Regions from separate parts of the Homo sapiens genome. Here region 1 is linked to region 2. The links come from fine-mapping of genetic effects on gene expression. A gene starts in region 2. The other region holds a variant in brackets. All regions are shown on one strand. Distances are between the middles of the regions.

Evidence for each region.
Region 1: its variant is fine-mapped to the expression of ZNF358 in whole blood (TOPMed, PIP above 0.99). The same link has a PIP of 0.9 or more in CD4 T cells and T cells.

Annotation. Positions count from the first base shown.
Region 1 is chr19:7,340,692-7,357,906 of GRCh38, forward strand. It overlaps ARHGEF18 (Rho/Rac guanine nucleotide exchange factor 18), which reads left to right and starts at 8,246. Exons shown (of 29, transcript NM_001367823.1): 1 at 8,246-8,550. RefSeq lists enhancers at 481-590, 651-720, 4,193-4,262 and a silencer at 13,772-13,891. The variant G/A (reference allele first, on the strand shown) is at 9,468.
Region 2 is chr19:7,508,930-7,521,552 of GRCh38, forward strand. ZNF358 (zinc finger protein 358) reads left to right here and starts at 7,174. Exons shown (of 2, transcript NM_018083.5): 1 at 7,174-7,320; 2 at 10,276-12,096. The coding sequence starts at 10,314. The coding sequence ends at 12,020. It overlaps LOC105372261 (a long non-coding RNA gene), which reads right to left. Exons shown (of 3, transcript XR_936294.3): 3 at 5,424-5,546. RefSeq lists a silencer at 7,006-7,255.

The DNA.
Region 1 (17,215 bases), 170 kb before region 2:
CTGCACCCGGCCACGTTTATATAGATTTTTATGTATTAAGTATTTCTGTGGTTTCATTCATAGCTTCTGGGTTTTCTGTCTTAGTTAAAACACACACACAACAATTTCAAAAAAAGCATGTTTTCAACCCTCAATTGTAAAAATAGCCTTGTAAATTCCTTCTATGATCTGTATTGGTTTATTGTTCACATTTCATCTTTAACCCAACTGAAATTATGTTGTTTTCTGCAGCACAGGAATATTTCACTCTGCCACGTCTCTGTCAAAAGTGGGAGAAAAGGCCAGGTGTGGTGACTCACATTTGTAATCCCGGCACTTTGGGAGGCCGAGGAGGAAGGATCACTTGAGGCCAGGAGTTTGAGACCAGCCTGGCCAACACAGTGAGACTACTCCAAGAAAAAAATAAGCGTGGTAGAAGGAAGGGCAAACCCGTGTCTCACACCCCATGGCCCTCACTAACTCAGGCTGCTGCCTGGCCCCTGTAAGCCTTCCGGCTTTCCACAAGGGTCGGTTTTTTTTCCTGTTTTGCTTTCTGTGGTCTTTCTGGCCAGAGGAGAAGCCATGGGGAAGTGCTGCCCCCACGTGGCCATCTCCATGATAGCAGCTAAGGCTGGAAGAAAAAGGCTTTTTGTTGTTGTTGTTTGAGATGGAGTCACTAGGCTGGATTGCAGTGGTACGATCTTGGCTCACTGCTATCTCTGGCTCCCAGGTTCAAGCGATTCTCCTGCCTCAGTCTCCCGAGTAGCTGAGACTACAGGCGTGTGCTACCATGCCCGGCTAATTTTTGGATTTTTAATAGAGACGGGGTTTCACCATATTGGCCAGGCTGGCCTTGAACTCCTGACCTCACGATCCGCCTGCCTCGGCCTCCCAGAGTGCTAGGATTACAGGCATGAGCCACCGCACCTGGCCAAGGCATCTTTTAAAGCTGAAAGCAAAATAGGTTCACAGGCCCCTGCTTAAAACCCTCCAGGGGCGGCTGATGCCTGTAATTCCAGCATTTTGGGAGGCCGAGGTGGGAGGATCACTTGAGCCCAGGAGTTTGAGATCAGCCTGAGCAATATAGCGAGACCCTGTCTCTACAAAAAATAAAATAAGGCCGGGCAGGGTGACTCATGCCTGTAATCCCAGCACTTTGGGAAGCCGAGGTGGGTGGATCACCTGAGGTCAAGAGTTCAAAACCAGCCTGACCAACATGGTGAAACCCCATCTCCACTAAAAATACAAAAAAAAAAAAAAATTAGCCACGTATTGTGGTACATGCCTGTAATCCCAGCTACTTGGGAGGCTGAGGCAGGAGAATCTCTTGAACCCAGGAGCCGGAGGTTGCAATGAGCCAAGACTGCGCCATTGCACTCCAGACTGGGCAATAGGGTAAGACTCTGTCTCAAAAGGACAAAAATAAAATAAAATAGCAAGGCGCGGTGTTGTATGCCTGTGGTCGCAGCTACTCCAGAGGATGAGGAGGGAGGCTGGCTTGAGCTTGGGAAGTCGAGGCTGCAGTGAGCTATGATCACACCACTGTACTCCAGCCTGGGTGACAGAATGAGACCCTGTCTCTCAGAAAACAAGAATAAAAACTTTATTTACAAAAGTAAGCATTGGGTTAAACTTGGCCTAAAGGTTATACTTTGCTGACCTGTGTTCTATTGCATATATTCTGCTGGACGTGATGGCTCACATCTGCAATCTCAGCACTTTGGGAGGCCGAGGCAGGTGGATCACTTGAGGCCAGGAGTTTGAGGTCAGTCTGGCCAACATGGTGAAACTCTGTTTCTACTAAATATACAAAAATTATCCAGGTGTGGTGGCACATGCCTATAATCCCCAGCTATTCGGGCGGCTGAGGCAGGAGAATCGCTTGAACCCGGGATGCGGAGGTTGCAGTGCAGTGAGCCGAGATCACGCCACTGCACTCCAGCCTGGGAAACACAGTGAGACTCTGTCTCAGAAACAAACAAACAACACCACAAAAGAAGAAGGAAGGAAGGAAGGAAGGAAGGAAGGAAGGAAAAAAAATCTCTCCAGCGGTACATACCCAAATGTTGAAAGCAGGGACTCAAAACAAATGTTTATACACCCATGTTCTTTTTTTTTTTTTTTTGAGATGGAGTCTCGCTCTGTCGCCCAGGCTGGAGTGCAGTGGCGCGATCTCGGCTCACTGCAACCTCCGCCTCCCGGGTTCAAGCAATTCTCCTGCCTTAGCCTCCCAAGTAGCTGGGACTACAGGCGAGCGCCACCACGCCCAGCTAATTTTTGTACTTTTAGTAGAGACGGGGTTTCACCATGTTGGCCAGAATGGTCTCGATCTCTTGACCTCGTGATCCACCCGCCTTGGCCTCCCAAAGTGCTGGGATTACAGGCGTGAGCCACCACGCCCAGCCTATACACCCATGTTCTTAGCAGCATGATTCACAATTACCAAAAGATAGAAATAACCCAATTATCCACCAATGGAATATGATTCAGATGCAAAAAGAAGGAAATTCTGACACCTGCTGACATGGATGGACCTTAAAGACATTACGCTGGGTGAAAGAAACCAGGCACAGTAGGACAAATCCTGTGTGATTCCACTTATAGGAGGTCCCTACCGTCACTAGATTGACAGAGACAGAAAGCAGAATGGTGGGTGCCAGGGGCTGGGGAGGGAGATGGGGAGCGAGGGTTTCATGGGGACAGAGTTTCAGTTTGGAGATGAGAAAGTGCTGGAGATGATTGCACAACAATGCGAATGCATTTAATGCCACTGAACTGTGCACTTAGAAATGGTTAACAAGGGCCAGGGGCGGTGGCTCACGCCCGTAATCCCAGCACTTTGGGAGGCCGAGGTGGGTGGATCACCTGACATCAGAAGTTTGAGACCAGCCTGGCCAACATGGTGAAACCCTGTCTCTACTGAAAATACAAAATTAGCTGGGCATGGTGGCAGGTGCCTGTAATCCTAGCTACTTGGGAGGCTGAGGCAGGGGAATCGCGTGAACCCAGGAGGTGGAGGTTGCAGTGAGCAGAGATTGCGCCATTGCATCCCAGCCTGAGCAACAAGAGAGAAACTCTGTCTCAAAAAAAAAAAAAAAAAAAAAAAAAAGGTTAAAATGGGCTGGGGGCAGTGGCTAATGCCTGTAATCCCAACACTTTGGGAGGCTGAGATGGGAGGATTGCTTGAGTCTAGGAGTTTAAGACCAGCCTGGGCAACATAATGAGACCCCTTCTGTACAAAAAATAATTAAAAATTACCCGCTCATGGTGGCACGCACCTGTAGTCCCAGCTACTCGGGAGGCTGAGGCAGGAGGATTGTTTGAGCCTGGGACATTGAGGCTGCAGTGAGTTGTGATCCCACCACTGCACTCCAGTCCAGGTGACAAAGACCCTGTCTCAAAAACAAACAAACAAACAAACAAAAACAAAGGGTTAAAATATAGAATTAATCATGTCTTTTGCAGCAATATGAATGGAACTGTAGGCTGTTATCATCTTAAGTAAAACAGTTCAGAAATAGAAAGTCAAATACCGCATGTTCTCACTTATAAGCGGGAATTAAATCATGTGTATACGTGGTCATAGTGCGGAATTTTAGACAGTGGAGACCCGGAAGGGGTAAAGGAGGAAGGGCGGGAGGGGTAAGGGATGAGAAATGACTTAATGGCTACAATGTACATTACTTGGGCGATGGTTACACTAAAGCCCAGGCTTCCTGCTGCGCAATCTATCCATGTAACAAAGTTGCCTTTATACTCCTTAAATGTATACACATTTTAAAAATCATTTTTTAAATTTAAAAAAATGGTTAAGGCCAGGCACGGTGGCTCACGCCTGTAATCCCAGTACTTTGAGAGGCCGAGGTGGGCAGATCTCTTGAGGTCAGGAGTTCGAGACCAGCCTGGCCAACAGGATGAAACCCCATCTCTACTAAAACTACAAAACATTAGCCAGGTGTCGTGGCAGGTGCCTGTAATCCCAGCTACTCAGGAGGCTGAGGCAGGAGAATTGCTTGAACCTGGGAGGCGGGGGTTGCGGTGAGCCGAGATCGTGCCACTGCACTCCAGCCTGGGCAGCAGAGCGAGACTCCGTCTCAAAAACAAACAAACAAAAAAGGTAAAAGGGTAAATGTTATGTTATGTGTCTTTTCCCACCAACGCAAGCAGTAAAGGGTAGAGCAGGTGGTGGCCCTCCCTGCGGGCTGGACGGGGTGGTGGAGGGGAAGGAAGGGAGCCAGGTGTGCACAGCCGAGGGGTGGCCTCTGCATTCGGCCTTAAGGCCAATATCAGGTGTCCGGGGCGCAGTGGGGACAGAGGCCAGGGTTCAGAGAGTGGGGAAGCGTGGACAGGAAGTGTGGACGGTACTCCCAAACAGCACAGAGTATTTCTACAGCACAGAAATATTTCACTCTGCTATGTCTCTATCAAAAGTGGGAGAAAAGGGCAGGTGCGGTGTGTCGTATTTGTAATCCCAGCACTTTGGGTCCTGTGACAGTCCTCCTCCGCCTGGCTCCAGCCACACCTGCTTCCTTCTGTTCCTCAAACACCCCAAGCTCAGTCTTGCCTCCAAGCCTTTGCCCTGGCAGTTTTTACCACCCAGAATAACTTTCCCCTAGATTTTTTTTTTCTCACTCTATCACCCAGGTGGGAGTAGGGTGGCACAATCTCGGCTCACTGCAGCCTCTGCCTCCCAGATTCAAGTAATTCTCCTGCCTCTGTGTCCCGAGTAGCTGGGATTACAGACAGACGCCACCACACCCGGCTAATTTTTGTATTTTTAGAAGAGATGGGGTTTCCCCATGTTGGCCAGGCTGGTCTTGAACTACTGACCTCACGTGATCCACCCGCCTCGGCCTCCCAAAGTGCTGGGATTACAGGCGTGAGCCCCCACGCCCAGCTAGACATTGATTTATATGCCTGACTTCTTCTGAGCTTACAGATCTCAGCTCAAATGGCCTTCCCTGACCTTCCCAGCTAAAGCATCAACCTCCCCCACCCACTCTATCGCATCACTCTGTTTACTTCCTGTTGCGGCAATTCACAGCACCTGAATTTATCTCCTAGGTGTGTTTCCTGATTCACTGTTTGCCTCCCCCAGCTGGAGCTCCTGCAGGGCGGGGGTTTGTGTCTGTCTTGTTCACCGTGATCCCACACCTGCCACAGTGCCTGGCATACAGTAGGTGCTCGATAAATGCATGTTGCCTGAAAGAAATAATCAACTGGTTACAGAATGGGTGTGTGCAAATCTGTGTATATCTGTGTCTCCTTGTGTTCTGTGTGTGTCTCGTTGGTGTGATTCTGGGGATGGCCCCACCTGTGTCCCCAGGGACAAGCGCGGCGCTATGGGCCAGTGAGTGTTTGTGGTGAGGGCTTTCCGGGTCTGTGTGTTAGTGATTTTGAGTGGTCCCGTGGCAACCGGTGTGCAAGTCAGTGTCTCCAGAGGTGTTCTCAGAGGTGGCCAGCATCTGCTCTTTTTTGTTGTTGTTGTTTTGTTTTTGTTTGTTGTTTAAGATGGAATCTCACTCTGTTGCCCAGGCTGGAGTGCAGTGGCATGATCTTGGCTCACGGCAACCTCCGCCTCCCGGGTTCAAGCCATTCTCCTGCCTCAGCCTCCCGAGTAGCTGGGATTACAGGCACATGCCACCACACCCGGCTAATGTTTATATTTTTAGTAGAAATGGGTTTTCACCACGTTGGCCAGGCTGGACTCAAACTCCCGACCTCAGGTGATCCACCTGCCTCGGCCTCCCAAAGTGCTGAGATTATAGGCATGAGCCACCGCGCCTGGCCAGCAGCATCTGCTCGTGTGTGTGTGTGTGTGTGTGTGTGTGTGTGAGTGTTCTGTGTGACTGTGGCTGTGAGTCCACATGTGTGTCGGGGTGTTTGTTGTGTATGTGTGTCTGCATGCCCATTCTGCATGTCCACATGACACTGCATGCTCCTGTGTGAAGTTGTGCCCATGAGCACACGTGTCTGTGTTTGCGTATCCTTGTGTGTCCTCTGGGTGTGTCCTTGAGCTTTGTGTTCCAGGAGCCTGCAGCCCTGTTGTGCAGCGCTGTTGTGCTCTGTTGTGCACGTGCATGTGTCTCGTGTCCTCTGTGTGTGGGGTGGCTCCTACATGTAGTTGTGCACACTTGTATCTGCCTCTGTGAGTCCCTGTGCCTATGTGTGACCATGTGTGAAGTGTGATTGTGCAGTATCCCAAAACCATCTGTGTGCACCGCTGTGCAGTAGTGTGCTGGTAAATGTTGAACCTCTCCAGTGGAGAGCACTGATTTATAGCATTGCCAGTCCTCATGGTGTAAATACTCTCGCCACAGCCAATTTCAAGTGATGCCACCGAACAGTGAGTCAGAAAGATATGGACAGCAGCAAACCATTATACAGTATTTCTACCAAACAGGTTCCATACACAAAAGCAACATCAAAAGCATAGATTATGAGGCCAGGTGTGGTGGCTCACACCTGTAACCCCAGCACTTCCGGAGGCTGAGGTGGGCGAATCCTCTGAGGTCCGGAGTTCGAGACCAGCCTGGCCAACATAGTGAAATCCCGTCTCTACTAAAAATACAAAAATTAGCCTGGTGTGGTGGGGGTCACCTATAATCCCAGCTACCTGGGAGGCTGAGGCAGGAGAATCACTTGAACCCAGGAGGCAGAGGTTGCAGTGAGCTGAGATTGCACCACTGCACTCCAGCCCGGGCAACAGAGCAAGACTCCATCTCAAAAAAAAAAAAAAAAAAAAAAAAAAAAAAAAAAGGAAAAGGAAAAAAAGCATAGATTATGGAAAATGCAGCAAAAATAATGTTAAAGTGATTAATTTAAATGTGGTAAAATAGGCATAACGTAAAATTTACCATTTTAACTTTCTTTAAAAAAAATGGGATTTCACTCTGTCACCCAGGCTGGAGTACGGTGGCACAATTATAGGTCACTGCAGCTTTGAACACCTGGGCTCAAGTGAGCCTCCCCGCCTCAGCCTCCGGAGCGGCTGGGACTGCAGGCAGGCACCACCAAATGTGGCGAAGTTTTAAATTTTTTGTAGAGTACTCACTCCAGTGACAGGCTGAAGCCAGCCCAAGAGCCAAGTTTAGTGGAGCATCATGGCTCATGCCTGTAATCCCAGCACTTTGGGAGGCCAAGGCGGGTGGACTGCTTGAGCCCAGGAGTTTGAGACCAGCCTGGGAAACATAATAAAATCCCTGTCTCTACAAAAAAAAAAAATTAACTTAGGCTGGGCGCCATGTCTCGTGCCTCTAATCCCAGCACTTTGGGAGGCCAAGGTGGGAGGATTGCTTGAGCCCAGGAGTTCGAGACCAGCCTGGGCAATATGGTGAGACCCTGTCTGTACTAAAAATACAAACCAAAAAAAAATAGCCAGGCGTGGTGATGTGTGCCTGTGGTCCCAGCTACTCAGGAGGCGGAGGTGGGAGGATCACTTGAGCCCAGGGGATGGAGGTTGCAATGAACCAAAATCACCCCCACTGCACTCCAGCCTGGATGACAGAGTGAGAGCCTGTCTCAAAAGAAAAATTATATATAAAAAATTATATATAAATTATATATAAGTCTATATATAATCCATATATAATTATATATAAAGTATATATAAATTATACATAAATTATCTGTAAACAAAAAACTTAGCCAGGCATGGTGGCATGTGCCTGTAATCCCAACTACTCAGGAGGCTGAAGCAGAAGGATCACTTGAGCCCAAGAGATTGAGGCTGCAGTGAGCTATGATTTTTCCACTGCACTCCAGACTGGATGACAGAATGAGACCCTATCTCTAAAAATAAAATAAACAGTTTTTTGTTGTTGTTGTTGTTGTTTTCTAAAAAAAGCCAAATCTGAGCATTTCCTATCAACTCCACACTCGGTGACATCACACTGGTAGGTGAAATCGGCCATGCTGGGGGTATTTACACCAGGAGAATTGGCAATGGCTACAAATCGGAGAGGTGGTTGTTAAACGTTACCAGCACACCATGTTGTTCCGCCAGCTTCCAGGTACCCATGTAACAATGTAGCCACGTGTGTTTCTGTCTCTCTGTGTGTACCCACCATGCTGGTGTGTGTCTGGGTGCCTGAGTCTCTACGGATACACATGACCTGCACGTCCCTATATGTTGCTGTCTATACACCCATGTGCCTGGGTGAGGCCCCCACACCCTGTTCCTCTTCAGCAGTTGGTTCCACAGGAAGCTGCTGGGGTGGGGGTTGAGGACGCTGGGCCTCCCTCCAGCTCCCCACCCCTCCTCCTCAAGACACCTGCATGCGCAGGGCTGAGGGGTGGGAGCAGGGCTCTCTGCCTCCAGAACCCCCATCCTCTGGGCTCTTTTTAGGCCCCTAGATTGGCCTGCAGCTGGGAGCAGAGTGGCAAGCATGCAGGCAGGCAGTTGAGAAAGAGGAAGTCGAGGTGCTATTGGGTCATTCTGTGGTTATCCCAGGCTCTACCCAGCCAGCGGTTCCCTTGGGCCAGCTCGAAACGCTGGCCGTAGGTCATGGGAGCTGCAGGAGCTGTTAGCCAGGCTAGGTGCCTGCAGGTTGAAGAACTGAGCTCTATCTGGTAAGTACTTATCCTGGGAAGTGGAGAGAGATGGACCCATCGGGACAGAGTGGCAGTGGGGTCTGGGAAGTCTAGGGGGACAGCGAGCAGACATACATCACTGTTTCTCTCCCCCTTGCAGTCAACTTGCTTCCTGAGTGGGTGGGGGAAGCTGTTTGACCCTTGCGTTCATTGTGCAGAGATCTGTGGTCATAAGAGGTCACCCCAGGGGACGGGGATCCTTGAGGGGCTGCTAGGTAAGAAAGGAGGGTGGAGGCCGGGCGCGGTGGCTCACACCTGTAATCCTAGCACTTTGGGAGGCTGAGGAGGGCGGATCACTTGAGGTCAAGAGTTGGAGACCAGCCCGGCCAACATGGTGAAACCCCGTCTCTACTAAAAATACAAAAATTAGCCAGGCGTGGTGGCGGGCAGCTGTAATCTCAGCTACTCGGGAGGCTGAGGCAGGAGAATGGCTTGAACCCGGGAGGTAGAGGTTGAAGTGAGCCTCTCAGTCTCAAAACAAAGAAAAGAAAAAGAAAAGCAAAGAAAGGACGATAGAGCTCCTTGTAGCCAAGGCCCTCCTGCGTGGAGACAGGAGACAGAGAATGAATGGGGGAGCTGGGGCAAAGGCTCAGGTGCCCTTTGCATCTTAAACTGCAGATTCCGGGCCCCCCAAGAACCTCCCTGTTGCAGATTCTGAATCCACTGTCAAAACAAACTCACACTTAAGGCTGATGGCTGACAACCAGCCCTGAGAAGGGTCTTGTCCTGATCTGAAATCATCCAGAGAGCACATCCCTCCACCCAGGCAGCCTTCCTCCAGGTGAGGGTTCTCCCCCTTGGGAGACATCCCCTGTCTCCTCTCGTGGCCCCTTCTTAGGGGGACCTCCTGCACCACCGCCTGCCTGGGACTGGGAGGGGTGGGGGAGGAAGGCTGC[G/A]GTTTCTGCTGGGCACACCCAGTCTGTTGTTTCCTGCCAGCCCCCAATGCTGCAGGGCAGGCTTCAGGCACCCTGAGGTCTAGGAAGGTGGCCCCAGAACCAGGAGGGAGTGAATTGAGCTAGAGTGGACAGCTGGGGCCAGAGAGGATGGAGCTAGGAAGTGACGCTGGGGGCTGATGCTCCAAGGCCAGGTCACCTGCAGTTCTGAGAAAAGAACATGACAACCAAAGGAGGTCAGGAAAGGGTTGCCCTCATAATCAGCCACATTTCAACTCCCTTGCTGTGACTGGGAGTCACTCTGGGAGGGCTGCTTGGTAGAGGCAGCCTTTTCATTATGCCTTGAAGAACCAGTAGATGGCAACTGCAAACACGTCGGTGCTTCTGGTCTGGGCTGTCTCCCATGCCTCCCTGGGCATCCCCTAGCCCATGACAAAGGGATGGGCATATGTTGATGCTCGATACTGTTGTAGATGACATGGTGACTGTGTTGGACAGCTGGGCGTTCAAATCCCAGTTCCCTGGCCTCTATGTGGCCTTGGGCAAATGACTTAACTGCTCTGAGCTTTCGTTTGCTCATCTGTTAAAAGGCTGTTGAGTTTTTTGGGGTGGGTGTGTGTGTGTGTGTGTGTGTGTGTGTGTGTGTGTGTGTGTGTGTGTGTGTTGGAGATAGAATCTTGCTCTATCGCCCAGGCTGGAGTACATTGGTGCAATCTCAGCTCACTGCAACCTCCGCCTCTCGGGTTTAAGCAATTCTCCTGCCTCAGCCTCCCAAGTAGCTGGGATTACAGGCACACGCCTCCATGCCCAGCTAATTTTTGTATTTTTAGTAGAGACAGGGTTTCACCATATTGGTTAGGCTGGTCTTGAACTCCTGACCTCAGGTGATCTGCCTGCCTTGGCCTCCCAAAGTGCTGGGATTACAGGCATGAACCACCTCGCTCAGCCTTTATGAAGTTTGGTCTGTGAGATCTTAGTGCAGTGTCTGGCACGTAATAGATCAGAAAACATTGTCAGCCTCACCTATGCCTTCATACTGACCTTGTCCCCAGGCCTTCCTTCCTGAGCAGTCCCACCATCTTCTGAAATGTTCTGGGTCATACCCATGGTGGATCTCAATCTGTAAGCAAGTCTGCTAGAGTGGACTTCTTTTGTTTGTTTGTTTGTTTGTTTGTTTGTTTGTTTTGAGATGGAGTCTTGTTCTATTGCCCAGGCTGGAGTGCAGTGGCACGATCTCGGCTCACTGCAAGCTCCACCTCCCGGGTTCACGCCATTCTCCTGCCTCAGCCTCCCAAGTAGCTGGGACTACAGGCGCCCGCCACCATGCCCGGCTAATTTTATGTATTTTTAATAGAGACGGGGTTTCACCGTGTTAGCCAGGATGGTCTTGATCTCCTGACCTTGTGATCCCCCCACCTCAGCCTCCCAAAGTGCTGGGATTACAGGCATGACCCACTGTGCCCAGCTAGAGTGGACTTCTTAAGGATCCCATCCAGCCATCCCTGTATCATATGCTACTGTATTTTCTCTCTGCCTCTCTCTCTCTCTCTTTTTTTTTTTTTTTTCTGAGACAGAGTTGCCCAGGCTGGAGTGCAGTGGCACAGTCTCAGCTCACTGCAACCTCCACCTCCTGGGTTCAAGCAGTTCTCCTGCCTCAGCCTCCTGAGTAGCTGGGATTATAAATGCATACCACCACACCTGGCTAATTTTAGTAGTTTTAGTAGAGACAGGGTTTCACCATGTTACCCAGGCTGGTCTTGAATTCCTGACCTCAGGTGATCCACCTGCCTTGGCCTCCCAAAGTGCTGGGATTACAGATGTAAGCCACTGCACCTGGCCTGTTGTATTTTTAATTCTAGCATCTTTATCTCCTGTAGGGCTGTTGCTATTGTCTGTGTTTCTTCTTGTTTTTTGGTCATGAGGTTCTGTCTTCTAGTATGCCTGGTAGTCTGATTAAATGCCAGGCCTTGTTTGTGAAAAACTATAGGGATAATTTGTGTCTCTTTATGGTGTCATTTTCCTCCATAGAGCGTTTATTTTTGCTTTGGGCAGGCAGTTAGAGAAAGGAAAGATCACTTTAATCTGATTGTGACCTATGCTGACTTGAAGATGGATTTTGCTCTCGGTGAGGGCTAGTCTATGTCTGGTCCCTCCTTGCTCCTAGGGTGTAGTCTTTTAGGGGTGGCAATCACCTCCTCTTTTTGGGCCCTGAATTCCAATGTTTATTTCCCCAACATAAGATTGCTAAGAGCTACATTCAGGTTCTCAGGCTTTTTCTGGTCTGCCTCCCACTCACTCAAGAACTGTGTTCAAATCAACAACTTGTTTGTGAGGGAAAAGCATTACATTATGTCCTTCTCACTTTCCTAGGTTTCCTTTTTTTTTTTTTTTTTTTTGAGATGGAATCTCACTCTGTCACCCAGGCTGTCGTGCAGTGGCATGATCTGGGCTCACTGCAAGCTCCACCTCCCAGGTTCACGCCATTCTCCTGCCTCAGCCTCCCGAGTAGCTGGGAATACAGGTGCCTGCCACCACGCCCGGCTATTTTTTTGTATTTTCAGTAGAGACGGGGTTTCACAGTGTTAGCCAGGATGGTCTCGATCTCCTGACCTCATGATCCGCCCACCTCGGCCTCCCAAAGTGCTGGAATTACAGGTGTGAGTCGCCGTGCCTGGCCTTTTTTTTTTTTTTTTTTTTTTGACATAGACTCTTGCTCTGTCATCCAAGCTGGAGTGCAGTGGCATGATCTTGGCTCATCACAACCTCTGCCTCCCAGGTTCAAGCGATTCTCCTGCCTCAGCCTCCTGAATAGCTGGGATTACAGGCATCCACCACCATGCCTGGCTAATTTTGTATTTTTAGTACAGACGGGGTTTCACCATGTTGGCCAGGCTGGTCTCGAACTCCTGACCTCCAGTGAGTTGCCCACCTCGGCTTCCCAAAGTGCTGGGATTACAGGTGTGAGCCACCGCGCCTGGCCCCTAGGTTTCCTTTCTTTCCAGGGCCGTGATTCTTCCAACTCTGACTGCCAATGCCTTCCAAGCAAGGGTGGTTTTTCACTCTTCCAATTTTGTCCAGCTTTTCTATTTGTTCTTGGTGGGAGAATAAATCTGCAATAAGCTAGCCTGCCATCATTAGAAATACATATTCCAGCTGGGTGCAGTGGCTCACGCCTGTAATCTCAGCACTTTGGGAGGCTGAGGTGGTTGGATCACCTGAGGTCAGGAGTTCGAGACCAGCCTGGCCAATATGGCAAAGCCCTATCTCTACTAAGAATACAAAAAATTAGCCAGGCATGGTAGCGGGCGCCTGTAATCCCAGCTACTTGAGAGGCTGAGGCAGGAGAATCACTTGAACCCGGGAGGCAGAGGTTGCAGTGAGCCGAGATTGCGCCATTGCATTCCAGCCTCAGCAACAAAAGTGAAACTCCATCTCAAAAAAAAAAAAGAAAAAGAAAAGAAAAGAAAAAGAAAAAGAAATAGATATCCCTGTTGTATTTTTTTAAAGTGAGATTTAGCCAGGTGTGGTGGCTCACACCTGTAATCCCAGTACTTTCGGAGGCCGAGGTGGGAGGATCACCTGAGGTTAGGAGTTCAAGACCAGTCTGGCCAACATGGCAAAACCCTGCCTCTACTACAAATACAAAAATTAGCTGGGCATGGTGGTGCACGCCTGTGATCCCAGCTACTAGGGAGGCTGAGGCAGGAGAATCGCTTGAATCTAGGAGGTGGAGGTTGGAGGTTGCAGTGAGCTGAGATCAGCCACTGCACTCCAGTCTGGGTGACAGAGCAAGACTCTGTCTAAAAAAAAAAAAAAGAAAGAAAGAAAAAGAAAAGAAATAGATATCCCTGTTGTATTTTTAAAGTGAGATTTGGCTGGGTGCCATGGCTCACGCCTGTAATCCCAAAACTTTGGAGGCTGAGCCAGGAGGGTCACTTGAAGCTCGGAGTTTGAGACCAGCCTGGGCAACATAGAAGACCCCATCCCTACAAAAAAGAAAAAAGTAAAAAAAATAGCCAAGTGTGATAGCATGCATGTACATTCCCAGCTACTCAGGAGTCTGAGGCAAGAGGATTGCTTGAGCCAACGGGTTCGAGGCTGCAGTGAGCTATAGATCATACTACTCCAGCCTGGGTAACAGAGTGAGATCCTGTCTCAAAAATAAAAGTTAAAAAATAACAGGCTCATGCCTGTTATCCCAGCACTTTGGGAGGCTGATTTGGGGCTGGGGGTGATTTGGGGCTGGGAAGTAATGTAAACAATTGGGAGACTGAAGGAGGGAGTCACACAGCAAGTACGTGCTGGAGGAGCTGGGATTTGAAGCCAGGATTTGAAGCAGGGATTTTTCAGACACAAGGAGTGAAGACGCTGATAAAGGAGCTTCCACCACGAGGGGGCAGCACCTGCACGGATGAGCACTCGTTGACACACACACACCATACCCCACACTTGGGTACAGAGAGAAAGGTGATGTGGCTCAATGCCTGCAATCCCAGCACTTTGCGAGGCCGCGGCAGGAGGATCGCTTGTGCCTGGGAGTTTTGAGACCAGCCTGGGCAACATAGTGAGACCCCAGCTCTACAAAAAATACAAAACTTAGCCAGTGTGGTGGCACACACCTGTAGTCCTAGCTACTCAGGAGGCTGAGGCCGGAGGATCCCTTGAGACCGGGAGTTGGAGGCTGCAGTGAGCTGTGGTCACGCCATTGCACTCCAGCCTGGGTGACAGAGCAAGACCCATCTCAAAACTAACAAACAACAAACAAAAAACAGAAACAGATGAAGACACAAATATGTAGAAACACAGAAACCCAGGCGGACACCAAAACCACCTCATAGATACTAGAAACAGATCTCCCCAAGACACAGATGAGTCATGTAGTTAAATCTGACCTCACGGATACCAATGGGCTTCACACACACACACACACACACACACACACACACACACACACACACAGACAATCACAGAGACACTTTTAAAACTATCTAGATAATCAAATACACCCCCACATTGACAAGCTGATATTCAGAACTCACCCTGAAACACAGAATCACAAACCCAAAAGCACGTGCTCTCTACACAACATGGAAATGCATCATCAAACCCACCAAGACGATGGCACGCACACACACACAAACACTCAGACATCCATGCACACCCAGGCTCCCCGAGGGACCCAGTTTGTACTTGTATTTCCCTAAGATTGTCTTGTCCAGCCAGGGTAAGAGGCCTGTAAGACTGGGTTTAAGGGACAGAGGGTGCTAAAGGGCTTGGCTTCTCCTCAAACCAGGGGTCCCTGGGCCCCTGAGCTGGAAACCCCAGCCCCCCTGCTGAAGCCCCAGGCTTCTATCAGCTGATGTATCTGGCAGACCTTGGAGGCAGTCTCCGCCCCTCTTACTGGCAGCCCCATCCTGGCAGGGATTCCCAGGCCAGCTCACACTCAAGCTCTCACACGCACGCATGGCCCCCATGGCTGACTCGGTGCTCAACCACTCCTGGCCGGCCTTCTCCAAGCTGTGGCTGAAGCGGTGGGCCTTCAAGAGAGGTAAGCAGCTGGCAGTGACCAGCGGGAGCCATCCACCCAGGTGGGGATCCCAGGACAGCCTGCCCGCCATCCCCCTTCGAGCTTTTTCTTGGCTGCAGTACAGACTCTGCTGGCATCGGCCCTGGATTCCATGACCCCTGATTCTCCAGGGCCCCCTGGAATTATCACAGACTTGTGGGGTCCCTCTTGTTTCAGAGGAAATGTCTCCCAAGACTTGGCCAGGAATTTGTCTCGGGCGGTAAATTTGCAGAAAGAAAGTCCGCCCTCTTAACTCAGCCGCTGAACTCCTCAGGGGCAGCCCAGCGATCTCCTGGGGGTCCCAGATGCTGTTGGTTTCTGGCCCAGCTGCAGGACAGGAGGCTCAGGGCAGAAACAAAAACGGGGGGATTAGAGGCTCTGGGGCACACACCTCCCTCCAACACACATACACACACACATCGGCTGGTGCTCTCTCTCTCAACCCCCAGGGTCCCCAGGCCTCAGGTGACCTCTCTGGGGACTGATAACAGCCTTTATTATGTCATCAAAGGCCTGAGTGAACTGTTGTTGCAAAGAGAGACACTTTTTCTTTTTTTTTTTTTTTCTGAGACCGAGTCTCATTCGGTCGCCGAGGCTGGAGTGCAGTGGCGCGATCTCAGCTCATTACTGCAAACTCTGCCTCCAGGGTTCAATTCATTCTCCTGCCTCAGCCTTTCGGGTAGCTGGAATTACAGGTGCCCCCCACCACACCTGGCTAATTTATATATTTTTCGTAGAGACGGGGTTTCACCATGTTGATCAGGCTGGTCTCGAACTCCTGACCGCAGGTGATCCACCTGCCTCGGCCTCCCAAAGTGCTGGGATTATAGGTGTGAGCCAGCGCGCCCAGCCATCAAAGAGACACTTCTTAATGCTCAAGAGTTTAGCCCTTGAAGATAACCAGATGATGTCCTGGTACGTAGGGCATGAGAGGACAGTGCTGGACAATATCATAAAAGCTGGTCATGCACTCATTGCCTCATGGGTTTTCTTGTCTCCGGCTCCCCACTGCCCATATGAGCGCCTCCTGGTCAGGCCAGCCGCATCGCTTAGCCTGCATGACTTGTTAGTCACAGCCACCATCACCTGCATGAGCCACGTACTTGTTCAAGGTAGCAGTGAGTTTTCATGAAAGAGGGGGCCAATGTGAAGATTCGTTAGCTCATTCATTCCACTGACCCTCCTTGAAGGCTCATTGTGTACCAGGCACTGTGCCGGGGTCAGGGAGCAGATGGGAGTGCCAGGGGACCCAAGGGCTGGGGTTAGGGGGAGAGAGGATGGCCTGGGAACTGGGATGCAATAGAAGAGTAATCATCAGGATAAAAGTTGTTGGTGGCTGTTGAGCTCTCATGAAGTTGGGCTCAGAGAGGTTGAGCGACTTGCTCGAGGTCACACAGCAAGTATATGCTGGAGGAACCGGGATTTGAAGCCGATTCTGTGTGAGGCCACTTTGATGTGTTCTGACTGATGAACAAAGCTGCCAGTGTGGGCAGCTGGAGTGCCTGGGGAGGGTTTTTAGATCCAACGGTGGATGGCGATCCTGAAGAATCAGTGTATCTGCCATGGATTACCAAAGTGTCTGCCTGTGACCCAGGTCCCTAAGAAGTTCTGTCCCTCTTGTGGCTGCTCAGCTCACCCTGTCTCCCTGCCCAGGCAGTTGAGGCTGGGATTTATATGCTAGCAGGTGGGGGAGTGAGCTGTGGGAACTGACAGTGACTCTTAAACCCTTTTATGGCTGATGCTGTGGGGGCTGATAGTGGAGGAGGCTGCCTGGGACTGAATCCAGGCTGATGGACAGCTCCTTGGAGAGAAGCATGGGGGTGGGGAGCAGGGTGCATCCCCAACAGAGCCCCTTTCCCTGAGGCCTCATTTCTCCTCTGGCTTAGCTCCCCTGGGAGAGTGACTCCCTTACAGCGTGTCTCCTGTCATCAGCCTTGGAAAGCAGGGAAGAATGGCCTTTTTGTCACCCTCTTAAGCTCTGTAATTGGCTGTCTGGGCACCTAATAGGAATTTCCCGGGGAAAGGGTGGGATTGGACTTGGGGTGGCAAGTAAGGCTTGAGAGAGGAGAACTGAGACCTTCAGTGAAGGGTCCCAGTGCCCCTTCCCCATCAACTGCCCCCATTACCCATTCTGCTCATGCTTTTTCATTCATTCCTCAATCTGTTGGTGCATGTCTGATGAGTG
Region 2 (12,623 bases):
GCAGTGAGCTGAGATCACACCACTGAGCTCCAGCCTGGGCAGCAGAGTGAGACTAAGTCTTAAAAAATAAATAAATAAATAAATAAAAATTTTAGAAAGCCAGGCATGGTGGTACGTGCTTGTAGTCCAAGTTATTCAGGAGGCTGAGGTGGGAGGATCACTTAAGCCCAGAAATTTAATGCTGCAGTGAGCTATATGATTGCACCACTGCACTCCAATCTGGGCAACAGAGCAAAAACTCTGTCTCAAAAAAAGAATAAAGTTATAGTGCTGAACAGAGATACTGGCGTGCGTACTTCAGAACACAGATCCCTGGGGCCGGGGAAGGGTGGGGGTGCTGGATGGGCATAATCCAAACTCGGACTCCTCCACGTCCTGGGTGGTAGTTTGGGCAAGTCACTTAACCCCTATGAGCCTCAATTTGCTCATCTATGAAATGGGGATAAGTAGCAATTCTCCCATGAGACTGTTATACATGAGAAATGTACACACTTTTCAGTGCATGGGGCTGGGGTCGTGGAGGGGAAGCTTCCCTTCTGAGGATGAGAATGGGGAAGGCCAGGGTGTGGGGAAAAAGCTTTCAATGGTGGGGACACTGGATGTGGCCCATAGAGGACATGGAAGAGTGGACACAGCTGAGAATAACCCAGCAGTTTTTTCCATCATGGACAGAGACTAGAGACCGAATGGGGCACTGGTTGTCTGGGCAACTGGTCCCCAGGTCAGAGCAGAGTCCAGGGGCAAATTGACAAAAGCCATCAAGATATTATGAGGTCCAGGGGGGTAAGTGTTCAGCCAGGGACAAAATGTAAAGGGTCAAAAGGAGGAGGATGTGATGGGGCTCTGCAGCAAGTGAGTGACAGGGCTTAGCAAGGACCAGTACCTTGGACAGCGCCTGACCTTTAAGGTCCAGGGCATGGTGAGGAGAAAGGTCTGTCTGGGGTAAGGTCTGTCTCGGGTAAGGTAGGCTTTAGTGACCATGCCGGGGCCTGCCTCTGTGGGCTGTTGAACATCCAGTCTCAAGGAGTGAACATGGCTTTCCTGAACCAAGAATCAAACCTCCAAAGACCAAGGACCCCAATCCAATGAACCATAAGGTTGAGCCAATCTCGACCCTGCCCAGGAGCCCTTTCCTGGTTGGCATCAGTTCTTCTAGGCCAGGTTGTCATTTCTGCAGGAAAGGCAGGAGGGAATCCAGCTTTGCATCCTGTAGGGACAAGATGACCCTTTTGGCCACACATGGTATCCACCTCGACCATGCAAGAATCTGCCAGCTGTGAATATGTCCTCTAAAGATATTTGGCATCATGCTCTTCTGAGTTACTTCAGGATAAACCAGGGCTTATCATTTATCGGTGTCTTAGATCAGATCATTCTTTATTGGAGGCTCTCCTGTGCATTGTAGGATATTTAGTGCCATCCTTGTCCTCTACCCACTAAATGCCAGTAGAACCTCTCCCTCCCACTTGTAACAAAATGTCCCAAATATTGCCATATATCTTCCAGATGGGAGAGAACTGCCCTGGTTGGAAACCACTTCGATAAGCTCATCCTCTTCTGATGAAGCTGGTCTGCCTAGTGACCAGACTACTAGAACAGAAAGGCTTTCCCTTTTTGCCTTGCCTTCTGGGAAGCTCAGAATGTTTATTTGGTCTTAAGTTCCATGTAGCTGTAGTTGCAGGATTATCTTCCTGCCTCATCCCAGGAATGGTTTAAAACAGCCTTAGGCATTAGATGAAAACAGTCCATAGCAATTAAAAAAGAGCTGGATTTCAGCACAACTTGGAGCACTTTCTGACAATGAAAATGACCAGCCCTAGGATGGCTTGCCAGGGAAGAACAGAAACTGTACTGGAAATGTTTAATCCTTGGGGAAAGACACTACATCAGGATTATTCTGGATGTATTTTATGGATTTATGACTAACCCTCCTATATTCCACTCACTCCCTTCCTTCCCCCAAAAGCCTAGGGATTAAGACAAAAAAATATAGAATTGAATGTGAGAAACCAAGATTTTTTTTTTTTTCGAAACAGAGTCTTGCTCTTGTCACCCAGCCTGGAAAGCAATGGTGCAATCTCAGCTCACTGCAACCTCCGCCTCCTGGGTTCAAGCAATTCTCCTGCCTCAGCCTCCCAAATAACTGGGATTACAGGTGCCCACCACCGCGCCTGGCTAATCTTTGTATTTTTAGTAGAGACGGAGTTTCACCATGTTGCTCGGCTGGTCTTGAACTCCTGACCTCGTGATCTGCCCGCCTTGGCCTCCCAAAGTGCTGGGATTACAGGCATGAGCCACCGTGCCCAGCCCACCAAGATTAATTTTTAAAGGAAAACAACTTTCTCAGTGGTAAGCGTCACCCAGCAGCAGAATTCAGACCTGCCTTTCTGTCCTTAGGCAAAAATACACCCTGACCCTCACTTTCCTTATCTGTAAAATGGGAATGCCAATAGTTCCCGTTTCATAGAGTGGTTACAGGAATTAAATAAGAGGTGCATGTACCATGCTCAGAAGAGGGCCTGGCACTTGGCTGCAGCTCAGTGAATGGTGACTAAATGTGTTAATGTCTTACGTCATTTTGTTGCAAATGACAGAAACCAAGCTCCATCTGGCTCAAGGAAAAAAAGGAATTTTATTGATTTAGAAAAAGACAGGCCAGACGTGGTGGCTCATGCCTGCAATCCCAACACTTTGGGAGGCTGGGGCGGGAAGATCACTTGAACTCAGAAGTTCAAGACCAGCCTGGGCAACATAGTGAGATCTCATCTCCACTAAAAATAATTTAGAAAATTAGCTGGGCATGGTGGTGTGCACCTGTAGTCTCAGCTACTTGGGAGGCTGAGGTGGGAGGATTGTTTGAGCCAAGAAGATTGAGTCTGCAGTGAGCTATTATCATTCCACTCCAGCCTTGGCAACTAAGCAAGTTTCTGTCTCAACAATAACACACACACACACACACACACACACACAGACACACACACACACACAGAAACAAGAAGGTCTGAGTCTGGAATTGGGTCTAATATCAGGCATTTTGCATCAGGACTCTGTCCCCCTGGCCATCTCTCAGTCCTGTGTCCCTCCAAGCAACAGCAAAGGAAGATGCTGGTAGTATTTTCCAATCATTATGATTAGATCCCCCAGAGAAGGGCGGGGTCTTTCCACCACGCTCCCTCTATCGAATTTTGGTTTTTGTTTTGAGACATCTGTCACCCAAGCTGGAGTGCAGTGATGCAATCTCGGCTCACTGCAACCTCCGTCTCCTGGGTTCAAGCAATTCTCCTGCATCAGCCTCCCAAGTAGCTGGGACTACAGGCATGCACCACCATGCCCGGCTAATTTTTGTATTTTTTATTACAGACGGGATTTCACCATGTTGGCCAGGCTGGTCTTGAACTCCTGACCTCAAGTGATCCGCCCGCCTCAGCCTCCCAAAGTGCCGGGATTACAAGCATGAGCCACCACACCGGGCCCCATATTGGGATTTAAGGAACAGGCTGATTGGCCCATTTGAATCACTCACCGAGTTGTGGACCAATCACTGTGCCCAGAGGAAAACAATATGGTGATTGGTTTGCCCAGCTCAGGAACCCACCCCTAGGTTATTTAACTCCCCAAACCCAGCCAGGATCACGGCGCTGGAGCCCAACCTTAATTGACTGTGTCTCCTAAGGACAAATCTGTGTCCTGCCCCAGGTTGCAATCTGGAGGGTGGATTAGCTCAGCTAATAGGCTCTTCCCAGTGAGAGTGATTGTCAGCTTTGCAGACAAGGAATGTTCAGCGTTTGGGAGTAGTTTAGGGTGTCAGATGTCCTCCCATAATCCCAGTCTTATCTTCTACCTCATCATCTGCCTCGTCTTTTAGCCTGGGGCGGAAAATTCAGCTCTGAGGTTCTCACAAGATGAAGCAGATGATTCTCTGCTTTGAGAAGAAACACATTCCAGAAACTTGTGTCTTTCTTGCAAGACTTTGCTGAAGATTGCATGAAAGCTGCCCCAGGCCAGGCATGGTAGCTCACACCTGTAGTCCCAGCAAGTTGGGAGGATCGCTGAAGTCAGGAGTTTGAGACCAGCCAGGGCAACATAGTGAGGTTCCATCTCTACAAATAAAATAGTAATAATAGCCAGGCATGGTGGCTGTAGTCCCACCTACTCAGGAGGCTGAGTCCCCAGGTACTCATCTGTAGTCCCAGCTACTCAAGAGGTTGAGGTGGGAGGTTGGCTTGAACCCAGGAGTTCAAGGCTGCAGTGAGCTATGATTGTGCCACTGCACTCCAGCCTGGGTGACACAATGAGACCCTGTCTCTAAAAGAGAAAGAAAGCTTCCCCATATTCCAATATTCTGGTCCTTAGGAGACACATGGTTAGAGTTCCATGAAAAAATCAGTAACTATTTATTTATTTATTTATTTATTATTCATTTATTTTTGAGATGGAGTCTCGCTCTGTTGCCCAGGCTGGAGTATAGTGTGGCACGATCTCGGCTCACTGCAATCTCCACCTCCCGGGTTCAAGTGATTCTCCTGCCTCAGCCTCCCAAGTGGCTAGGATTACAGGTGCCCTCCACCATGCCCGGCTACTTTTTGTATTTTTAGTAGAAATGGGGTTTCACCATGTTGGCCAGGATGGTCTCAAACTCCTGACCTCAGTGAGCCGCCCATCTCAGCCTCCCAAAGTGCTGGGATTACAAGTGTCAGCCACCGCGCCTGGCCAGGCAACAATTTAATCCGCTGGTTTTCTTCCACATAACTCTAGTTTTCTGGGGGAAAGCTCTTTTACAAAGCCCCGTATACATCTAGACAGGTCGTGCATTGCATAACTTAAGGTGCCCTATTCACTTTATAGTCCATGTATGTGGCAACCCTGGCTCTCTATCCCATCTTTCTTTAGTTTGTTCCACATTTTAGGGTTTTTTTTAAAAGATTTTTTTTATTACTCTTTCCTTTCCAGGTAATAATTCCTAAATTAGTCAAGACTGTCACGGATGCAAAGAACAGACATCCACTAAAACCAGCTCAAACACCCAGAACATTTGTTGGTTTGTGGTACAGGAAAGAATGAGTTCTGTGGCTTCAGGTACGGCTATATCCAGGAGCTCAACAAATATAGCCAGAGCTATCTCTCTGACTCTTACTTGTACATCTTGGTGCATATTGTCCTCAGTCTGCAGACCGTTCTTTTGAACAACTGGGGAAAGTGGCTGCAGGCAGAATGAGCCCCCTGTGGCTCATAACCCCAGAAGTAGAGTGAGAACCTCCAATGTCACCTTCTCAACCCATACCTAATTATTGTGGCCAGGGGATAGGGGCCCTTTGATTAGAGTCCAGCTCACGTGGGACTGGGAAGGGGTGTTAGACACATGTGCATCTGGAGTAGTGGAGGGGACCCCACAAAGGAAAAGAAAGTACTGTTAGATTCTGAGCCAAAGAAACAACAGATGTCATCACATGTATTTGTAATGGGATCATCCAGGAAGTGTCAGGATAAGGAACCAGGGGCATAATCCAATTGAAGTTATCTCCAATCTCTCAGATCTGCTGTGGGCTCTGCGGAAAGATGGAAAGCAGGTCTCAGGCTGAGTCTAACACACATCTAGAAGGTTCAGGAAGGAAGAAGGAACCATAGGGTGTCTCTATAAGGAGGACATGGGGACAGAGGAGTATCTTATAGAATTTGGGCTTGTACTTGGTGGTTTGCATTTTTTGTTTTGTTTTTGTTTTTGAGACGGAGTCTCGCTCTGTTGCCCAGGCTGGAGTGCAGTGGTGCAATCTCGGCTCACTGCAACCTCCACCTCCTGGGTTCAAGCAATTCTCCTGCCTCAGCCTCCCGAGTAGCTGGGATTACAGGTGCCTGCCACCACGCCTGGCTAATCTTTGTATTTTTAGTAGAGACAGGATTTCACCATGCTGGCCAGGCTGGTCTCAAACTCCTGACCTCAAGATCCACCCGCCTTGGCCTCCCAAAGTGCTGGGATTACAGGCATGAGCTACCGCACCCAGCCTATACTGGGTGGTTTTACAGAGAATTACTAGGGTGGTATTGTCGGGAACCTGGGAGCGCTTTGCTGACTAGGTATTTCAGTGATTTTTGTCTCAGAGGTGGGAGGATGGCAGTTGGGTTGGAATTGTCGTCGGTAAGAAGTGGCAGTCATTTGTGTTCACTTGGAGAGGGGGATGAGAACTCATTTTTGTGGTTGCACAGGGCCCATGTCTCTATCTTGGTTCAGACATGGTCACAGAGTGGCCTTGCCTCATCATTGTTTATATTCTGTGACCATTGTTTATATTTAGTGGAGAACATCGCGGCCCAGCCATCAGGAGCTGATTTCCACTCTCTCTCCTGGCTGGCAGCGGGGATCTGTGTCTCCAAGGAAAGTTTGCCCCGAGCCCTTCCCGGCCCGGCGTAGGGTTCTCCGGAAACCATCACTCACATCTAGCACTTGGAGGCCTCCAGGGACAGCGGTGACCCACCATCTGGGTAGGAGGCTGAAAACACTAGAGGAGGAATATCCCAAATCTGTGCCTTGGCGGGTGTTACCCAGAAAGGGTGACGGGTTTCACCATGCAAAAAGGAAAAATTGGAGGAAGGCCAGGTTAAGCAAAAATAGACATGTTTTTAGATTGCAGAGCTGAGAGGCTTGGCTGTGCCTATGTGCGCTGCAAGTCTCCAAGAACAACATGTGTAGAGTTTTACGAACAAAGATAGAGTCAGAGACATGGGCAGGAGGCAGAGACAGAGAGAGAGAGACAGACAGACACAGAGAGAGATAGAGGCAGAGAAAGCAACAGAGGCAAAGAGATTGGAACACAGAGAAAGAGATGGGGACAGAGACACAGAGAAAGGAACAGAGATGGGAAGACAGGGACAGAGACAGAGAATGAACAGAGATAGAGAGATAGGGACGGAGAGAGACAGAGAGAGGGACAGGGATGGAGAGAAAGAGATAGGGCCAGGGCCACAGAGGGACTGAGACAGGCCCAGGAGGAGACTAGGGATGGGGCCAGGGCTGCGTGCGGGCGGGGCACGGTGCAGACAAAGGCGCGGCCGCGCGGTCGGGGTGGCCTGGCCGGGGACAAAGGCCTGCCCGGGGGGCGGGGGCAGCGATGGCGACGGCCGCGGCGGGCGCGGGCGAACTACAAGTCCCAGCAGCTCCCGCTGCGGCCCTCGGCCGGCCCCTCTCGCTCCCCGGGAGCGCCTGGCGGGGCCGCTGGGCCGAGGGGGCCGCCGGCGGGGCTGGCGGGCGGGGGGCTTCCTGCGGGCCCGGGGGGAGCCGGCGGCCGGCGCGGGCGCGGCGGGCCGGGCAGGGGCGAGGGGCGCCGGGTGAGTGTCCCTGCGAGCGGGCTGGGGCCGGGGCGGGGGGCTGGGTGGGGGGCGGGCGGGCGGGGGAGCTCCAGGCGCGGGGCGCAGCCCGGGGCGACCTCTAATCGTCCCCCGCCCTGCGCGCCGCCGGCCCTGGCCCAGGCGAGCGGGGGTCGCGGGAGCGATGGGGAGGGGACTCTGCGGCCAGCTCCGGCCTAGCGCACCCATCCCGCCGCTGGGGCCCGGGGGGAAAGGGCCAGGAGGTTGGGAGCCTTCAATCGGGCGGGGTGGGGGGCGCCCGCCAGCTCTGGGGTCTGGAGCTCAGGACGCCCCCTCCCTAGGAGGCGATCCAGGACCCCCTCCCCTCCTGATTCGAGGTATTGTTCCCACCTCCCGCCTGGGGTCTGGAGTTCAGGAGGCCCTGTCCTCAAAAGGGGGACCTAGGGGTTCCCTCTTCCCCCAGGACCCTAGGAAGGGTCCCAGCGATTGTTCCCTTGCCCCTCCAGTCTTGGGGTCTGCAGTTCTGGAAGCTCCTTTCCCTGGAGGTGATCCAGGGGTCCACCTGCCCTCACCCCTGGGAACTCAGGAAAGACTTAAGTGATTTCTCCTCCCACCTTCCAGTTAAGAGATGGGAATTCAGGGGGCTCCTTCCCCTGGAGGCAATCTAAGGGTTCCTCTGCCCCTGATGCAGGAGGGGTCCCAGGTCTTGTTTCCCCCACTCTCCAACTATGGGGTCTGGGTTGAGGACCGCCGTCCAGGAACTCGGCTCTGTTTGCCTGCACACTCCCAGCTATGGGGTTGTGGCTCAGTGTATTCCTTTCCCCAGAAGGGGAGCCACAGGTCCCCCCACAGCTTCTCCCAGGAGCAGATCATTCATTGTTGACACCTCAACACCCAGCCATGGGGTGGGGAGCTCAAGGCATCCTCCCGGCAGGTCATCCTGGGCTCCCATTGCTCCCCAGAAGTGGTTCCAGCTTTTGTCCCTCTACCTCCCAGTCTGCCCCTAGCCACAAGCTGGCAATTCAGTTCAGGATCCTTCCTGCAGGAAGGGCTACAAGTGTGCTGACACTACCCGCCATGTCCCAGCCATGGGAGGAGATGACTCAGGCGTTCCCCCATTAACTTCAGAGGGTCCCCAGGTATTATTTTTGCCTATCCTCCAGCTAGAAGTTAAAATGCAGGACCTTCTAGCCAATAGGGAAAACAGGTATACTGGCCGGGCATGGTGGCTCATGCCTGTAATCACCATACTTTGGGAGGCTGAGGTGGGAGGATCATTTGAGCCCAGGAGTTTGAGTCCAGCCTGGGCAACATACCAAGACCCCATCTCAAACATAAATAAATAAATAAAACAGGTATACTAACAACTGTCCCCACCATCCTGCCTATGGGGTTCATGAGTCTCCCTACCCATCCCTCCTCACCAGGAGGGGTCCCAAATATCACTCTACCATGCTCACTATCTGGCTGTAGGAAAGGGCATTTCCGATCTGTCTAAGAGAGAGGATTTGACACTGACTCCCACCTGGAGCTGTGAGCTCTGGAATTCAGGTTTTCTTTTCCCCAGAGGGCAAGCCAGAGTCTTCTTGTCTTTCCCCAGTGACTTGGGAGGGATACCTGATGTTATTTGTTCCATATTCTTATCCCCCAGACATGGGTTCTAGAGCTCAGAATGCTGCTGCTGGAGGGGGGCCTCCCTACCAGAACTCGCCCCCTAAATTAATCTGCCGCCTCCAAGTATGGGACAAGAATTCAGGCCATGTGCTCAGGAGCACAGAAACGCTGACACCCACACTGTTCCCCATGTGGGGACGCCCAGCAAGGGGGTAGGAAGCTAGGACTGTCTCCTCCACAGGACCCCAGCTTCCCACAAGAGGAGCCCAGGTTGGAGAGAGGTGCAGAGCCATGGAGTTGGGGACTAGAAACCTCTAGTGCTGGGTCTCATGACCTCCGTCCAGGTTTGGGGCTGAGAGGGGAGGGTCCTACCATGTCCCACCTGGTTCCCTCAACTCCCTGCCCTGGCTGGGGTAAGTCAGAAATCTCCTTGCAGTCAGAGACAAGGGAAGGATCCACGTGTATGCTCAGAAGTGAGTGGGGTTTGGCCAGGCACAGTGGCTCATGCCTGTAATCCCAGCACTTTCTGAGGCCAAGGCCAGAGGTTTGCTTGAGTCCAGGAGTTTGATACCAGCCTGGGCAACATAGCGACACCCCATCTCAAAAAAGAGAGACAGAGGGAGAGAGAAAGGAAAGAAGGAAGGAAAGAAGGAAGAAGAGAGAGAAGGAAGGAAAAGAAGGAAGGAAGGAAAGAAAGAAAGAAAGAGAGAGAGAGAGAAAGAAAGAAAGAAAGAAAGAAAGAAAGAAAGAAAGAAAGAATTGAAGTTAGCTGAGTGTGGTGGTGCATCTGTAATTCCAGCTACTTGAGAGGCCGAGGTGGGAGGATCGCTTGAGCCCGGGAGTTCCAGTCTGCAGTGAGCTATGTATGATCACATCACTGCACTCTAGCCTGGGTGACAGAGTGAGACCCCATCTCAAAAAAATAAAAATAAAGAAGTGGGGCTGGGCGCGGTGGCTCACGCCTGTAATCCCAGCACTTTGGGAGGCTGAGGCATGCAGATCACCTGAGGTCAGGAGTTTGAGACCAGCCTGTCTAACATGCTGAAATCCCATCTCTACTAAAAATACAAAAATTAGCCAGGCATGGTGGTGGACACCTGTAATCCCAGCTACTCAGGAGGCTGAGGCAGGAGAGTTGTTTGAACCTGGGAGGCGGAGGTTGCAGTGAGCCGAGATGGTACCTTTGCACTCCAGCCTTGGCAACAGAACGAGACCCCATCTCAAAAAAAAAAAAAAAAAAAAAAAGAAGTGGGTTCTGGGGGCACAATCGGGTCCCGTCTCTCATCCCTAACCAGACTCCAAAAGACACCCCCGCTCCCACAGAACCCACCTACCCTCTACCCTCTATCCTTGCCCTTGCAGGTCTTGCCCCAGAAGCTGCGGGCACATCCACGCCTGAAATGCGGCGCTCAGTCCTGGTCAGGAACCCAGGCCACAAAGGCCTGAGACCCGTTTATGAAGAGCTCGACTCTGACTCCGAGGACCTAGACCCCAATCCTGAAGATCTGGACCCGGTTTCTGAAGACCCAGAGCCTGATCCTGAAGACCTCAACACTGTCCCGGAAGACGTGGACCCCAGCTATGAAGATCTGGAGCCCGTCTCGGAGGATCTGGACCCCGACGCCGAAGCTCCGGGCTCGGAACCCCAAGATCCCGACCCCATGTCTTCGAGTTTCGACCTCGATCCAGATGTGATTGGCCCCGTACCCCTGATTCTCGATCCTAACAGCGACACCCTCAGCCCCGGCGATCCAAAAGTGGACCCCATCTCCTCTGGCCTCACTGCCACCCCCCAGGTCTTGGCCACCAGCCCCGCGGTGCTCCCCGCCCCCGCCAGCCCGCCCCGGCCCTTCTCCTGCCCGGATTGCGGGCGAGCCTTCCGCCGCAGCTCCGGGCTGAGCCAGCATCGCCGCACGCACAGCGGCGAGAAGCCGTACCGCTGCCCCGACTGCGGGAAGTCCTTCAGCCACGGTGCCACCCTGGCTCAGCACCGTGGCATCCACACTGGGGCGCGGCCGTACCAGTGCGCGGCCTGCGGCAAGGCCTTCGGCTGGCGCTCCACGCTGCTGAAACATCGCAGCAGCCACAGCGGGGAGAAGCCGCACCACTGCCCGGTGTGTGGCAAGGCCTTCGGGCACGGCTCGCTCCTGGCACAGCACCTGCGCACGCACGGCGGCCCGCGGCCCCACAAGTGCCCGGTGTGCGCCAAGGGCTTCGGCCAGGGCTCTGCGCTGCTCAAACACCTGCGCACGCACACGGGCGAGCGGCCCTACCCGTGTCCGCAGTGCGGCAAGGCCTTCGGGCAGAGCTCGGCGCTGCTGCAGCACCAGCGCACACACACGGCCGAGCGCCCCTACCGCTGCCCCCACTGCGGCAAAGCCTTCGGGCAGAGCTCCAACTTGCAACACCACCTGCGCATCCACACGGGCGAGCGGCCCTACGCCTGCCCGCACTGCTCCAAGGCCTTCGGCCAGAGCTCAGCGCTGCTCCAGCACCTGCACGTGCATTCGGGCGAGCGTCCCTATCGCTGTCAGCTCTGCGGGAAGGCCTTCGGCCAGGCCTCCAGCCTCACCAAGCACAAACGGGTGCATGAGGGTGCAGCCGCTGCTGCAGCTGCCGCGGCCGCTGCAGCTGCAGCAGCGGCCGCCGGCCTGGGCCTCGGGCCTGGCCTAAGCCCTGCATCCATGATGAGGCCGGGGCAGGTCTCCCTCCTGGGTCCTGATGCTGTTTCTGTGCTCGGCTCTGGCTTGGGCCTCAGCCCTGGCACCAGCTCTGGCCGCAACCCTGACCCTGGCTCTGGGCCGGGCACTCTGCCGGATCCCAGCTCCAAACCCCTCCCCGGCTCCAGATCCACCCCCAGCCCTACTCCTGTGGAATCTTCTGACCCAAAGGCTGGGCACGACGCTGGTCCCGACCTTGTGCCCAGCCCAGACCTTGATCCTGTGCCCAGCCCAGACCCTGATCCTGTGCCCAGCCCTGATCCCAACCCTGTGTCCTGCCCTGACCCCTGTTCTCCCACTCGTGGCACTGTCAGCCCAGCCCTCCCTACCGGCGAGAGTCCAGAGTGGGTACAGGAGCAAGGGGCACTGCTGGGGCCTGATGGCTGAAGGAGACGCCGGCATCCTCGGGGGCCTGGGGAAGTTGTGTGTTGTGCAGTCAGTAAAATCCTCCCACTGCCTCCGGGCTCTGTGTCGTGGCTTGCCTTTTGTGCTTTCTTTCTGAGCACAGCCCCTTGCTCCGGAGATGGGACATTGTGGCCAGGGCCAGCCACAATCTGGAGCTCCAGTGTCCTGGCTTCCTTCTTGGGCCCACCAGCTAGACTTTCCAGCTTAACCCACAGTGTCTCATCCTGGTCCATCCCACTAGTCACCACTCTCTGTTCCTCTCACTTACCCCTTGCTCTTCAAAGCCCATACAGTAGGTATACAAGTGGACAAAAAAAGTTGCTCATTTATGCAATCAACAAACATCTCTGGATTGCTGGGGTCTCAGCAGGGAACAAGATAAATATGGCCTCGACCTGCATGGAGCTCATAGATACTAAATTCAGAATACTTAAAAAATAATTACGGGGTATAGTACATTCTAGGAGAAGCATAACAAGACTTCTGATATAAATGGCAGGCAGCTTTCTCAATGAAGGATTTTGTAATCCCAATAATCACTAATTTAATAATCAGTACTGTTTGCCCAGCCTTATGCGATAGTTT